Linked DNA regions of Homo sapiens. The protein of the gene in region 4 purifies or fractionates together with the protein of the main gene of each other region. This does not show direct contact. Each region holds a gene or a part of one and is shown on either strand. Other genes may lie near its edges.

Region 1 (3,184 bases), on a different chromosome or scaffold from region 4:
TAACCACCACATCTGAGGATTGCTGAGCAGAATCTAAAACACACAGGAACACCCTTTACCCATCACTAAGAACTCTTCACACATTCAGACAGGCGCTGCACCCTGCCATGTGCTAGGCAGACCCCGCCGTCCTCTGCTGCTATGAGGCAGAGAAAGGGGCTCCCACTCAGGCTGGTGTTCACAGAAGGCTTCCAGCCAGAGACCAGGACAGCTGGGGTTTGAAGGAGGAGCAAGACTAGTCAGGGAAAAGATCCCTTCTGTTAGAGCAGGAAGGGATGGAGAGCAGGTGGAAGCAGCATCCAAGAAAACAGGTTTTGTCAGAGCTACAGACAGAAAGGTCTCAAGCAGCTCAGGGCTGCCTGATTGATCTTTGAAAGCGTCATGCCCTCTAGACTTAAAATGTCAGGCAGGTAGTAGGGTTATTTTGACCCTTGATTTCTTCATCACACAATACTTAATCTTCAAAGACCCTGTGGAGACTTTCCTTTCCAACACTCAGTACTTCCATTTTGACTGGAAGTATTTTTGTGCCACTCGTATAATTCACATCTATTTTGAGACCCATCAGTCCCTTCGAATATTCAGAATTTCCCACCTCTTAATATTTCTCCAACACACAAAAAAACGAACTAGATGATATTCAAATAAAAATTTAAAATTTAACGTATATGTTAAATATACATGTACATAGTTACAAAAGTACTGACTTGTGGAGCCTTCCGGGGAACAGGGCAGGGATAAGAGGCAAAGGCAGGGTGGACTCCCCGTGCCTGCTGCACCCACACCCGCCTCAGCAGGGCAAACGAGGACACCTGCCCTGCACCCCACCCCCTCCAACCCCATCTCTGTCCCCCCAGCCCCGCCCCCAGCACGTGCACAACCTAAGCCAGCTCCTACCACTCTGCTTCCTGCCCGCCGCGCTGCCCCAGCATCTGTCTGGACTGCTGCCTCCACACAGCCAGCCCCCTGCCTCCTGTGCACCCCCTCGGGACCCCTCACCACGTGTGCTCTGAGTTTGTCTCTCACTGACCTGCGGGGCCGAGAGGGCAGAGGGTGGTTCCATGCCAAGCTGCTGAGACGCAGCGCAGCACCTGCCCTACTGAGGATTCGATATGCTTCTCCAACACAGGGAAGGAAGTGGCCCAGGTAAAGTCACTGCTGTCTGGATCCCAACCTGCTGTCACTCCTGAGGGGTTCTTTGAAAAGCTCTCCCTTTGCCAACATGTACGATGGACTAAATAAATAAAACTAGATACTTACATTTAAAATTTTAATGCCAAACAATTATACTACAAGTTGAATTCCCATTCTCTTTTTTCTGCCGTGGAAACTGCCTGTTTCACTAAACTCTGCTGCACACAGAAACCCTACACAAAGTCCTGGCCTGTGGACTGTGCTGGTGTGGACAGGCACCACGTTTTGGAGCCAGGCCTGGGCCAAGCACTGAGCATGGGGCCTCACGTGGCCTCACGCAGCCTGTGTCTGGGCTGGAGCCCAGGAGAAACCTGCCCTTCAGATCCGGATGACGGGGCAGCCCATAGGAGTGAGCCCGGGAGGATGCTGGAGAGCCATGGAGGGAGCTCTGGGCAGGACCCACTGCTCAGGGACAAGGCCAGAGGCCCCGAGGGAGCTGCTACCTTCAGGGCCTCATCCAAGTTCCCGCTGGCTGCGTGGAGTACCTGCTGGGCCGCGTGCGTGGAGTAGCCCATCCCTTTCAGAAACCTGATGTTCTCGAGGCGGCGTCTTTTCTTCTCTTTTTCCTCCTTCCTTATTTGGGCCAGTTCCTTTAGGAAAACAGCAAAGTCCCATCCCAAGTTAGGGACTGAGATTTCACAGCCTCTCAGTCTGCGCTCTGCAGGATTCTCCGCATTTCCAGGCAAAGCCAAAAAACCAAAGCAAAGCACAGGGGGCCCTCTTTCTACCTCTCCTCACCCAGCCAAATGGCAGAGGTGCCACAGAGGCAGAGGGGTGGTGGAAGTGCTGCTTCTGAGGCAGGCAGTGGAAGTGAGATGCCCGTGGGGCAGGAAGGAGGTGCCTCGCCAGCCCCGCCATCCACCATCCGGCATCAGGATGGGCTGCTCGCCAACCCAGCACTCCCACTGCAGAGGTCGCGGGTGTGAGGTGCATGGATTCTCTTCTAGGAACCAGGTAGGAACCGGGTAGGAGAGCTTCTGCACGCGGTGGGAAGGCCTTCCAGCCTTCGATGAATCGCCCAGGGATTCAAGTTAAAATGTGATGTGGAATCAGGGGCTCCTGGGCAATGCCAAAGCTGGTGACCCGCCCCCCACAGCCTGGGGAGCAAGGACTCCAGGGCCTTCTGAGGCCTGTCATTCCATTCGGAACCCACAGAGTGCCCAGAGACAAAGGTCATCTAACCTCTTGGTTCTCAACCCTGTTTCTCAGAGTTGCCTGCTATTGCTGCAGGAGCGCAGGACGGCTGCAGAGGGTTCTAGTCTCTTCACCTCTCCCACCCAGGGCCAATCAGGAGAGTTCCCAATTTATTTTGTAAACTAGTATCCCCATAAAAATGTCATTTAAAAAGGGGATTTTGCTGCTTAAAAACAACAACAACAAAGCAAGTTTGAAAACCAGGAATTTAATCCAACCTCATTATTTTCCCAACAAGGAGACAGAAAGCTTTCAACAAAGTTAAGTGACTTGCTACATTCTCCCAGGGAGACCAGCCCCACCATCAGCAGCAGCGAGGACGGGGGAGAAAACAGACTCCTTCCTTCCAGAGACCTGATCCTGCCTCCTGCCCAGCCCAGGCAACAGGCGCCTCCCTGCATTTTCCCCACAGCAGGAAAGCGGCCTCATCTCTTAGGAAAACAAAAGCATCATCATTGTGGAACCAGACTCCACAGGCCCCACAGTAGGAGCAGGCAGAACAGAGTGGCTGCTGGAAACATCTCCAGGGATGAAGACATCTGTAGACTCATGGCCTGTCTCTATCACAGGAGAACCTCCTGGTGTGGCCCTGGAGTGCCCACAGCGCCAGCTCCCTTTGCTTCCCCTTCAGCTGCACCAGGCCTGTCTCATGCCCCCATTACGTGCTCTACCTCTCAGTGGCCAGTCTCCCCCAGCTCCAGCCCCGCTGCACAGGGCAGCAGGCTCCGTCATTCCAGTCACCTACCTGAAAGCCCGCAGCAGCTCCTGACCACCTCCCCACACTGAGGCACCAGCT
Region 2 (4,358 bases), on a different chromosome or scaffold from region 4:
AGCCAGGCACAGTGGCTCACGTCTGTAATCCCAGCACTTTGGGAGGCTGAGGCAGGAGGGTAACTTGAGCCCAGGAGTTCAAGACCAGCCTGGGTAACATAGCAAAACCCCCTCTCTACAAAAAATACAGAAATTAGCCAGGTGTGGTAGCTTCCGCCTGTAGTCCCAGCTACTCAGGAGGCTGAAGTGGGAGAATCACTTGAGCCCAGGAGGTTGAGGTTGCAGTGAGCCGTGATTGCACAATTGCACTCCAGCCTGGGCGACAGTGAGACCCTGTCTCCAAAAAAAAAAAAAGTTTAAAAGGTAAAAAGAAAAAAAAAGTAATAGAAAAAAGCTTGTAGAATAAGGATATAAAGAAAATATTTTTGTACAGCTGTACAATGTGTTTTATGTCTTAGCTGTGTTATAACAAGAGTCAAAAAGTGTAAAAAAACTTAAAGTTTATAAAGTAAAAGTTACAGTAAACTAAGGTTTACTGTTGAAAATAATATTTTAATAAATTTAATATAGGTGAAGTGTACAGTATTCATAAAGTCTACAATACTGTAAAGTAATACATTCACTCACCTCTTACTAACTCACTCAGAGAAACTTTCAGTTCTGCAAACTCCATTCATGATAAGTGTCCTACACAGGTTGTGCCCTTTTTTTTTTTCCTGTATACAGTATTTTCTTTTTTTCTTTTTCTTTTTTTTTTTTTTTGAGACAGTCTCGCTCTGTCGCCCAGGCTGGAGTGCAGTGGTGCGATCTCGGCTCACTGCAACCTCTGCCTCCCAGGCTCAAGCCATTCTCCTGCCTCAACCTCTTGAGTAGCTGGGATTACAGGCGCCCGCTACCACACCCGGCTAATTTTTGTATGTTTAGTAGACACAGGGTTTCACCATGTTGGCCAGGCTGGTCTTGAACTTCTGACCTCAGGTGATCCACCCACCTCGGCCTCCCAAAGTGTTGGGATTACAGGCATAAGCCACCACACCCGGCCAGGTGTTTTCACTGTACCCTTTCTATATTTAAATACAAAAATGCTTACCATTGTGTTACAATTGCCTACAGTATTCAGTACAGTAACTTGACGTACAGCTATACCATTTAGCCTAGGTGTACAGGAAGCCATACCATCTAGGTCTCTGGAAGTACACTCAAAGATGTTCGCACAATGACGAAATCGCCTACCAACTCATTTCTCAGAACATAACCCTGCTGTTAAGCAATGGATTACTCTTATTTCCCAAGGCTCAATCCTAACATTCTCGGGAAGCCTTCTTGACTCCTATCATTAAGCCAAATACCCCTCTTATGCACTCTCCCAGATTCACGAATATTTTCTTCCCAAAAGTTACCACTATTGCAATTTTTTTTTTTTTTTTTTTGAGACAGGGTTTCAATCTGTCACCCAGCCTGGAGATCAGCAGCACGATCACAGCTCACTGCAGCATCGACCTCCCCAGGCTCAGGTGGTCCACCTGCTTCAGCCTCCCAATTAGCTGGGACCACCACGCCCGGCTAATTTTTTTTTTTTTCTGTATTTTTTGTAGAAACGGGGCCTTGCTATATTGCCCAGGCTGGTCTTGAATTCCTGGACTCAAGTGATTCTCTTGCCTTGGCCTCCGGAGTCGCTGGGATTATAGGCGTGAGCCACTGCGCCTGGCCCTATCACTATGGTAACTTTACATTTATCTGAATTCCTTTTTTTTTAGACGGAGTCTCACTCTGTTACCTAGGCTGGAGTGCAGAGGTGCAGTGTCGGCTCACTGTGCAACCTCCGCCTCCGGGTTCAAGCGATTCTCCTGCCTCAGCCTCCCAAGTAGCTGGGATTACAGGCACGCGCCACCACGCCTGGCTAATTTTTTTTTTTTGTATTAGTAGAGACGGGGTGTCACCACGTTGGCCAGGCTGGTCTCGAACTCCTGACCGCAAGTGATCCGCCCGCCTCAGCCTCCCAAAGTGCTAGGATTACAGGCGTGAGCCACCGCGCCCGGCCATTATTTGTATTGTTTTTTGTTTGTTTTGTTTTGTTTTGTTTTGTTTTGAGAGTCTCGTTCTGTCGCCCAGGCTGGAGTGCAGTGGCGCGATCTCGGCTCACAGCAACCTCCGCCTCCCGGGTTCAAGCGATTCTCCTGCCTCAGCCACCGCGCCCGGCCCATTATCTGGATTCTTTAGTACCTGTTCCTCTAGACTCTACGCTCCATTAAAGCAGGAACTCCATCTGTTGCAACACCTAGCACAGCGTCCGGCACACTGCAGTTCTTCAATAAATACTTGCTGCATGAAGCCCTCTCTTCACCACCACCCCCACCCCTCCTCCTCGCAAAAAAAAAAAAAAAAAAAAAATGCCCCAGGGAAGGGTCCCTATCTACTCTGTCCACCACTGCCCAGGGCCCATCAGTGGGCCCAATGGCTATTTGGCGAGTAAATAAATGGGGTCAGGAGAAACGAAGGGGAAAGGATGTGTCAGAGGCCAGGACTGCCCCCTAAGATGGAGGAGGCCTAACTCTGGGAGCTTCCGCCTCTCCGAACGAGCGTCGCCAAGAGAAACCCCCTCAGAAGCGAAAAGGGCCAGGAAAAGAGGTCAGCCCCGGCCAGGCAAAGACATCACCTAAGCTCCCCAGCAGCCCCGTGTCTCTCCGCCTTTTCCTTCTCCCTTCCCGTCATGGGAAAGACTCCCGCCCGTGTCGTCACCTACACACACGAAAGAGACACAGGGAGAGAGGCTTCCATTCACGGTCACTCACAGGCGCAGCGGTTTCTGTGCCATCTGTCCGAATAGTATGGGTTGCGACTGCCACCTAAAATTGGGAATGCGAATCCGCGCTCCCCGGAAAAATGCGACCGCGCAACAATCAGACGTCAGCGCCCTCCAGCCAATAACGGTTCACTTACTTACGGAGACCGCCGAGGGACAGAAGCCTCTCTCAGGTGTTTGCGCCTCAAGGAAGAATCAAGAGGGAAAGGGAGGAACGAAGGGAGAAAGAGAAAGTGACCGAAAGGATTCCAACTATGATTTTTTAAATTAAATTTCAGAGCACTTGAAGCGAATGAATGGCTAGGAAGTACAGAGCACAATGTCGGGTTCTAACCTAACCTAACCTAACCTAACCTAACCTAACCATATCGGTCTAGTGGGCAAGACAGACCCCCTCTATCCACGTTTTTTGTAAGTTTTTAACCTATCAAAAAGTTAAGAGGCCGGGCGTGGACGCTCACGCCTATAATCCCAGCACTTTGGAAGGCTGAGGCGGGCGGATCACTTGAGGTCGGGCGTTCAAGACCAGCCTGGGCAACATGGTGAAACCCCGTCTCTTCTAAAAATACAAAAATTAGCCGGGCATGGTGGAGAATTGCTTCAACCAGGGAGGCGGGGGTTGCAGTGAGTCAAGATCGCGCCATTGCACTCCAGCCTGGACAACAAGAGCGAAACTCCGTCTCAAATTAAAAAAAAAAAAGTTAAAAGAATAATGGCTATTACCTTGATTCAGTAAGTCTCAGCATGTTGGCAAATTTGCTTGTGTTCTCTTTCTCTCAAAGTGCCCAAGCCCTTCCATTCTCACTCAATCATTTGAAAGTAAAGTACAGGCCGGGCGCAGTGGCTCACGCCTGTAATCCCAGCACTTTGGGAGATCCAGACCATCCTGGCTAACACGGTGAAACCCCCTCTCTACTAAAAATACAAAAAATTAGCCGGGCGTGGTGGCACGCACCTGCAGTCCCAGTTACTCGGGAGGCTGAGGCAGGGGAATCGCTTGAACCCAGGAGGAGGAAGTTGCAGTGAGCCGAGATCGCGCCACTTCACTCCAGCCTGGGCGACAGAGCGAGACTCCGTGTCAAAAAATAAAATAAAATAAAGTGCGGACAACAGGAATACATCTCCATTTATCTCCTAAGATTAGGATATCCTCCTACATAACCGTAATACTATTAACACAGCTAAGAAAATTAACATTAATTATTCAATAATATTACCTAATATACATCCATATTTAAAGTTCTCCATATTTCCCTACAAACTGATTTTATATTTGGGGCTTGTTTTGATTCAGATGCAATCAAGTTTCACACTTGCATTTGGTTCTGTCTCTATTTTAATCTACAAAAGCCCTCCTACCTATTTGGTTTTAGTTTTTGTAATATTGACTTTTTTGAAGGGTTCAGGCCAAGTGGTAGGAAACAAGTGTGTAAGGAAATGGAAACAAGAGAGAGTTCCTGACGACTGCGGGGAAAGGAAGACTCATCAAGGGCATCTAAATAATTCAAAATTAATAAAACATAAGATTAAAGAAGAACTACAGGCCAGGCACAGTGGCTCATGCCTGTAATCCCAGCACTTTGGGAGGCTGAGGCGGGAGGTTCACTTGAGAACA
Region 3 (3,615 bases), on a different chromosome or scaffold from region 4:
TCCACTCCCAGCACCACCCCAGGCTGCTTCAAGACACCTGGAAACCCTCTCCTGAAATGGCTCCAGCCCTACCCTTCCCAATGCTGGATGCCTGCCCCAGCACCATCTAAGGAGGTCCCACTCCCCACAACTGCTGCTGACAACAATGCTGGTCTGCTCCTTGAACCTGGGACCCCTCCAACCTCCCCTAAGCCACAGATGACTGGACCATGGCTGGGCACCAGAACCTAAGAGTGCTGCTCTGCAGGCTGGTCAGTGACCTCAGAACTCCTTTGTAAAAGAGTGTCATATGGCAACAATGTTCTTTCTATAAAACACAAACTGGAGATAGTATACAACGTTACTTCTGTGGTTATGAGCTAGTGTTTGAAAATTGAAGTAATTCTTCAAATTTTTCAAATGTTCCATTTTAACTGGTGTTTCTATTGCTACAGCTAACATCTTCCATGAATAAAGCTTCCCCACTATTAGATGATGTCCATAGGATACATTCCAAATTGTTGTGCAAAAGGCTAATGTTATTTTTATGGTTAATGACATATCACATCTCATCAATTTTAAGACTCGCTCTTTTTCTAACTTTAATTCACTGAAATTAGGACAGCATTTTACAATGATAACTGGCAGCATTTTTTTTCTTTGGTGACACATAAAATAACGATGTTTCTTACACATGATGGTATCTTAGATCCAATGGAATAAAGCATGTTGGTAAGTAAGTTCCATAAAGGTGGTACTATTTCCAAAGCCATCAACAATATATAAAAATGGCAGTTTCACTGCATTCTTACTAGCAATGTTTTGGCAAAAAGTGTTACCTTCTGTTACCTTCTTTTATATTACATTTATTTGATTACTATCGGCATATTTCTTCTTTTGTGAATTTTTTGTTCTAATCCTTAGCCCATTTATCAACCTGAAAACTGTTTTTTCCTAAATATATTAAATAAAATCATTCTATAATAAAGTTTTTAATCTTTATCATTTATCTCATGACTGCTGAAAGTATCTTTCACTAATTGCTTTCTATTTTTTAACCCTTAGATGTTTTAAATTTGCATGTAATTTATTTAGTCTCCATGATTTTCTGTATTTTTCCTAAGCACTGAGCTGATAAAATCTCAAATCTACATGTCTAAATATGATCTAATCCGATATCCAGTCTCTTCTCTCCTATTGTCCATAAGAAATTTCCATGTAAAATATGCACTCTAAACAGGGGTGATATCACTTCCAAAGGGGTGGAAACTGGTTCTTGGAGGCAGGGGGAGGGGAGCATCTTAGACACTACAATGGCCGGTAGCCCTCCAAAGCTCAATCCTACCCTACAAAATCTTATTCCTTAGTATTTAATTTCTCAGGCTGGGTAGAATTTAAATTTAACTTTTCTCCTGGGCAGGGGTCTGATAATGAAACACAGGTGAAGAACACCAATTGCTGAAGTAAGGCTGTCATCTACCTGCTGGGTGACAGGCGTTTGACGAGCTGCTCTCCAACTAGGTGCTCCTTGTAAGCATCCTGTTTCTATCAATGACTCCAACATGGCTCAATGGCCCAGGTTTCAACTCTTCCCTCTCTCGTGAGTGTATTCACCCATCAAATATTCTCTGAGCGTCTCATATACTCCTCACTCCAAGCACTTGTCTCCAGTCCTCCTTCCCTAGAGTGCTCTTTGCCACCATTTTCTAATTCAACCAGACCCCAAAGCTTGACCGGACTCCCACCACACCTCAAGGAAGCTGAAAGACTTCCCAAGCTAGCCCTCTCTGGATTCCTTCTTCCCGGCATTCCTTCCACATCTGCCAGCACGTCTTCTATGATTACTAAAGTATCTACTACTTTAACTTCGAAGAGGACTGATAATCTTAGTACTTTGTCTATCCATATGAATCTCTCCCTTCATTACACTGTTCCCTTAGAGTAAAAGCCAAGACTCCGTCATTGTTTAATCACTTGCTCTTAGTATAAAGACAAAAGAAGACTTAAATGGAACCGCCTGGGCTCAGGTTCTGACTCCATCATACCCTCACTGTGTAACTTCAGCAAGTTACATTTTACCTCTTAGCCACGCTTTTCTCACCTATAAGATGGGGAAAAGAGCACACGTTTCACAGCGTTGTTGTGAGCATTAAATTAATAAACACATGGAACACTCAGTGCACTGTCTAGCCACTTATAAGCACTCAGGAAATGTTACCAAGTACTAATGGTGCTGAGGATGTGGCTGAGTACCTGGCACACTAGGCTTTCAGGCTGACTGCTGAGGCGGGTGTGTCACTTCCTTAAAAGCGTAGACTTCTGAGCCACATACAGATCTGGCTCTCCTCCTTACCAGTTGCGTGGTCCTGAATTTAATCTACCTTCTCCCTAGGATCTTACGACTAATTGTAAAATGAGGATAACATTACCGACACCTCACAGAGTGCGAGATTGAGCAAGAGAATATTTGGAGAACCCCTGCCACAGCGTAACCTACTGTGTCCCTGATTAATAGTAGTCACTGTCACTGCTAGAGGCCAGAGACTACGTCTTACATAGTACTTTTCTGTCTTACCTTTAGTGGCTGCCTAGGCTAAATATCCAGCACTTGCTTTAATAATACTTGTCTTTGAATATAAAATTTAATTTTTATGTAATAGCTACTAATATCACTGATCAAAAAGTAATTTTTCTTGCAAAGCCTACATGGGAAAATCAATGACATGATGTGCACTGATGTGACTGTTAGTGATTCTTAAGTATTGTCATGGGCTATGAAATTCCTTTAGTAAGAATGCCCATCAGAAAGAAAAATAGACCTCCTTGGAAAAAATACGCAACTTGACCTTCAGCTTTTCACAGATGCAGGCAACTCAAAATATAAAACCCAGTGTTGGTACAGAGCACGCCACACTGCCTCGCACCAGCCCAGCATGAGAACTTTAGGAAGACAACTCAACAGAATGAAGCAAGGGAGGTCACCAGCTGGGACGGTTTCTTCTCACCTTCACTAGACTTCCTGGGCACTTGAAACTTGACAAGAAGCTTTTTCAATTGTTCTCTTACAGTCGCAGCTCTGACAAGACCCTTGTAATTCAGGAAATGTTCCTGACACCATTTAGAGTCCTTATTGTGCTACAGAACAACCCAGAGAGAGGGAGTTAGAAAACAGATATGTTCTCGACTAAGGCTATGTTGTAAAGATCATTCTTCTCTCTTCCCCCATGTGCTGTTCAACGGCATAAGATCTAAAGATGGGAACTGGCCCTTTTTTGCCCCATCTCTCAAAACAGATGTTAACAACCTTGCACACATCTGACTGCTCTGCAACCTCACTCTTTACACTAAAGGGCAAATGAGAACTTAATGACACGCAGAAACGGTTTCAATCTTACATACCTTCATGAGATGTGAACTATCAGAAAGAACCATTTCTCCACGTGGTTCTTTGTAAATCAACTTTTCTTCTTTGGCATGCTTGAATGTATCACTTTATTATACTAGAAGCCAACAATATGACACTTGCCAATGTAGAAATAATTTACAAATTACTATTATTTGTCCCCAAAGCATGATTTTTCTATCAACAGTATTTAATTTTTTCTGCATTCATAAGTATGATCATTATGTCTTAGA
Region 4 (3,615 bases):
ATTATAACAAGCTTGTCCAACCCGCAGACCAAGGCCCAGGACCACTTCAAATGCAGCCCAACACAAATTCGTAAACTTTCCTAAAACATTATGAGATATTTTTTGTGATTTTTTTTTTAAAGCTCATCAGCTATCATTAGTGTTACTGCATATTATGTGTGGCCCAAGACAATTCTTCTTCCATTGTGGCCCAGGGAAGCCAGAAGATTGGACACCCCTGGATAACAGGCATGAGCCACTGTGCCTGGCCGGTAGCCACATTTCAAGGGCTTGAAAGTCACAGGTGGCCCATGGCTACAGTACTAGACAGTGCAGATTAAAGAACACTATCACTGCACAAAGTTCTAGTGAGCAACACTGCTGCTCTAATCTCTAGAGCCAGGTGACAACCAGGAATTGCTGGTTGCCTGGAACCTGCAACTTGACAGCCAGACCTCAGCCCCAAGGGCTGGTCAGCCAGACAGCCAGTCTCCCTGTCTCAGAGCAGCAAGAGACAGCCCAATTCAGGGCAATCGCTCAGGAAAGCTTGGCATGTTTATGCCAAGTTAATCATCACCTTTAGAGAGCCTCCATTTGGCTGCTGAAGAAGAAAGAGGTCAAAGGAGGACAGAGTGGCCTCACACTGCCCTGCCGGACAGCACTGTAAAGAGATGCCAGAGTTTCATCCACACAGCCTTGAACTGTTCACCTACTCACCCAGCCAGGAACTTCTGGATGAGCATCAGGAAATGAGGTTCAAATACAATACAGAAAAGTGTGCCCAGGCTGGCTACCATCCCTGCTGGAAACCCTGGCTCTTGCAAAACTTGGCTACCAGAGTACCCCAGTCCAGCACTTTCAGACTGTACCCCTGCCCCTGTATCACTGCCAAGTGCTTGCTGTCAAACTCCCTGGAGCATCTCCACTCTCACCTCTATGCACCTGAATGTTCCCACCTCTAAAATGCTCCCTGGGAACACTCTCCTTTCCAGCTACCTCGATGACCTTCTCCCACTTCCCCATCCTCCGTGGCTCAGCTCAAGTTCCATGCTGCCTTCCCATGAAGCTTCCTCAGGCTCTGCCTGGCTTTCCCAGAAAATGAACCCCAGCAGTACTGTCTTTCTGCGTGTCAACGGGAACTGGCTGACCTACAAGATGCTGCTTCAGGCAGTGCTGTGTCCTCTACAGAATCCCCTTCCCCCAGGGGGTCTTGCATGGGCTGGAATCCTGGAATCCAGGAGACATTACTTCCCCTCCTCAGCCTTGGACATCCCAGCTCTCCTCAGCCTCTTGCCTTGCTCCTCTCACTAATAAGTGGCATCAGGTGGGCTGACCAGGACGTCTTTGTAAAACTACAGCTGCATGACTACAAGAGAGTTTTGCGCAGAATAATACACGGAAACATTGCAACCCCTAATCTTGTCTCTTTCCATCTGCCACAACCTCAGGACCCTGAATTGTCTTAATATCACTAAATTATGAGTTTATAGTCTGGTGAGAGTTAGGAAGAAAGATAAAACTGTGAGGAAAACCAACTCCATGCCTGAAATTCCTAAGGCCTCCAGCAAAACCATGCCCACAGTAAGAACTCAATGAAGGACCTGCCACTGAGTGCTAGGAAACCAGCAAGATGCCATCCTCATGGGGCAGACAGGTGCTCTCCAAGTGCAGGCAGAGAAGGTGCTCAATCCTGGTGTCTGTTGTCACATCAGAAACCTGAACTAAAAATGTGAAGCCGCTTCCTCTCTGAAGGAGGAGACTCAAGGGGTTTTATCTGGCCACAGCAGGCAGTCATACTTCCTCACCAGACTCCCCACTTAAAAGGTCCAGCAGAAAGGGCCACAGGCTGGAAAATCAACTCAAAGGTTAGACCCTTACCTGTCCTGTCCCCAGGCATTCACCTTAATAAAAAAAATCACTCAAGAACTATAGGGATTAAATATGACACTAAAAATACATGCAACAAAATCAAAAACAGATAAATTGAACTTCATCAAATTTTAAACTCTTTGCGCAGCAAATGAGACTATCCACCAGGTGCGGTGGTTCACACCTGTAATCCCAACACTTTGGGAGGCCAAAGCAGGAGGACTGCCTGAGGCCAGGTGTTTGAGATCAGCTTGGGAAACACAGTGAGACCCCCATCTCTACAAAAAATTAATTTTTAAAAAAATGACACTACTAAGAGAATGAAAAGATAATCCAGAGAATGGGAAAAAATATCACTAATCTCATCTCTAATAATGATTTAATATCCAGAATATATGAACAATTCAATGACAACTCAATAACAAGAAAAAGAGCCCAATTAAAAATATGGGCAAAAGGAATCTGGATACTTCTTCAAAGAAAATATATATACAAGTGGCAAACAAGCATATGAAAGGATGTTCAACATCACTCATCACTGGGGAAATGCAAATCAAAACCACAATGGGATACCACCACTTCACACCCATTAGGAAGGTTATAATTAAAAAAACGAAAAAAGAAGATGGCTGGGCTTGGTGGCTCACACTTGTAATCCTAGCATTTTTGGAGGCCAAGGCAGGAGGATCACTTGAACCCAGGAGTTCAAGACCGGCCTGGGGCAACACAGTGAGACTCCTGACTCCTTTAAAAAAAAAAAAAGAAAGAAAGAAAATAAAATAATAAGTGCTGGGGAGGATGTGGAGAAACTGGAAGCCTTGCACACTGCTGCTGGGAATGTAAATGGTGCAGCCACTACTGAAAACACTATGGTGTTTCCTCAAAAAGCTAAACAGAATTATCATATGATCCAGCTGTTTTCCCTACACATAATTACATTCCTCTCCCTGCTATATAAACCCCTGATTTTAGTTCGTCGAAAAGACAGATTTGAGACTGATCTCCCTTCTCCTCACCTGACATCACCCGAATTTAAAAAAAAAAAAAAGGCCCAGTGTGGTGGCTCACGCCTGTAATCCCAGCACTTTGGGAGGCCGAGGTGGGTGGATCACCTGAGGTCAGGAGTTTGAGACCAGCCTGACCAACATGGTGACACCCTGTCTCTACTAAAATAAAAAATTAGCTGGGCGTGGTGGCATACACCTGTAATCCCAGCTACTGGGGAGGCTAAGGCAGGAGAATCGCTTGAACCCAGGAGGTGGAAGTTGCAGTGAGCTGAGATCGTGCCATCGCACTCCAGCCTGGGCAACAAGAGCGAAGCTCCATCTCAAAAAAAAAAAAAAAAAATTAATCCCAGCTACTCGAGAGGCTGAGACAGGAAAATTGCTTGAACCCAGGAGGCGGAGGCTGCAGTGAGCTGAGATTGCACCATTGCATTCCAGCCTGGGCAACAAGAGCGAAACTCCATCTCAAAAAAAAAAAAACAAGAATTACCATATGATCCAGTAATTCCACTTCTGGCTATCTACCCAAAAGAATTTAAAGCAGATACTCAAACAGGTATCTGTACTCCCATGTTTCTTCTTTTCTTTTTTTTTTTTTTTTTTGAGATGGAGTCTCACTCTGTCGCCCAGGCTGGAGTGCAGTGGCGCATCTCAGCTCACTGCAAGCTCCGCCTCCCAGGTTCACGTCATTCTCCTGCCTCAGCCTCCCAAGTAGCTGGGACTACAGGCGCCCACCACCGCGCTCGGCTAATTTTTTGTATTT

Evidence for each region.
Region 1: the proteins of CCDC12 (region 4) and NUB1 purify together in Homo sapiens (affinity purification with mass spectrometry; one large-scale study listed by BioGRID and IntAct). This does not show direct contact.
Region 2: the proteins of CCDC12 (region 4) and CWF19L1 purify together in Homo sapiens (affinity purification with mass spectrometry; one large-scale study listed by BioGRID and IntAct). This does not show direct contact.
Region 3: the proteins of CCDC12 (region 4) and DHX35 purify together in Homo sapiens (affinity purification with mass spectrometry; one large-scale study listed by BioGRID and IntAct). This does not show direct contact.

The regions. Positions count from the first base shown.
Region 1 is NC_000007.14:151,372,697-151,375,880, reverse strand, and holds part of NUB1 (NEDD8 ultimate buster 1), read right to left. Parts: exon of another isoform or gene 1,785-3,184; coding exon 1,638-1,784; exon of another isoform or gene 34-1,637; coding exon 1-33. UniProt on the Homo sapiens protein: Specific down-regulator of the NEDD8 conjugation system. Recruits NEDD8, UBD, and their conjugates to the proteasome for degradation. Isoform 1 promotes the degradation of NEDD8 more efficiently than isoform 2.
Region 2 is NC_000010.11:100,264,839-100,269,196, forward strand, and holds the start of CWF19L1 (CWF19-like protein 1), read right to left. Parts: upstream 2,801-4,358; 5' UTR 2,756-2,800; coding exon 2,733-2,755; exon of another isoform or gene 2,688-2,732; intron 1-2,687.
Region 3 is NC_000020.11:39,024,729-39,028,343, reverse strand, and holds part of DHX35 (probable ATP-dependent RNA helicase DHX35), read right to left. Parts: intron 3,115-3,615; coding exon 2,985-3,114; intron 1-2,984. UniProt on the Homo sapiens protein: May be involved in pre-mRNA splicing.
Region 4 is NC_000003.12:46,970,177-46,973,791, forward strand, and holds part of CCDC12 (coiled-coil domain-containing protein 12), read right to left. Parts: intron 1-3,615.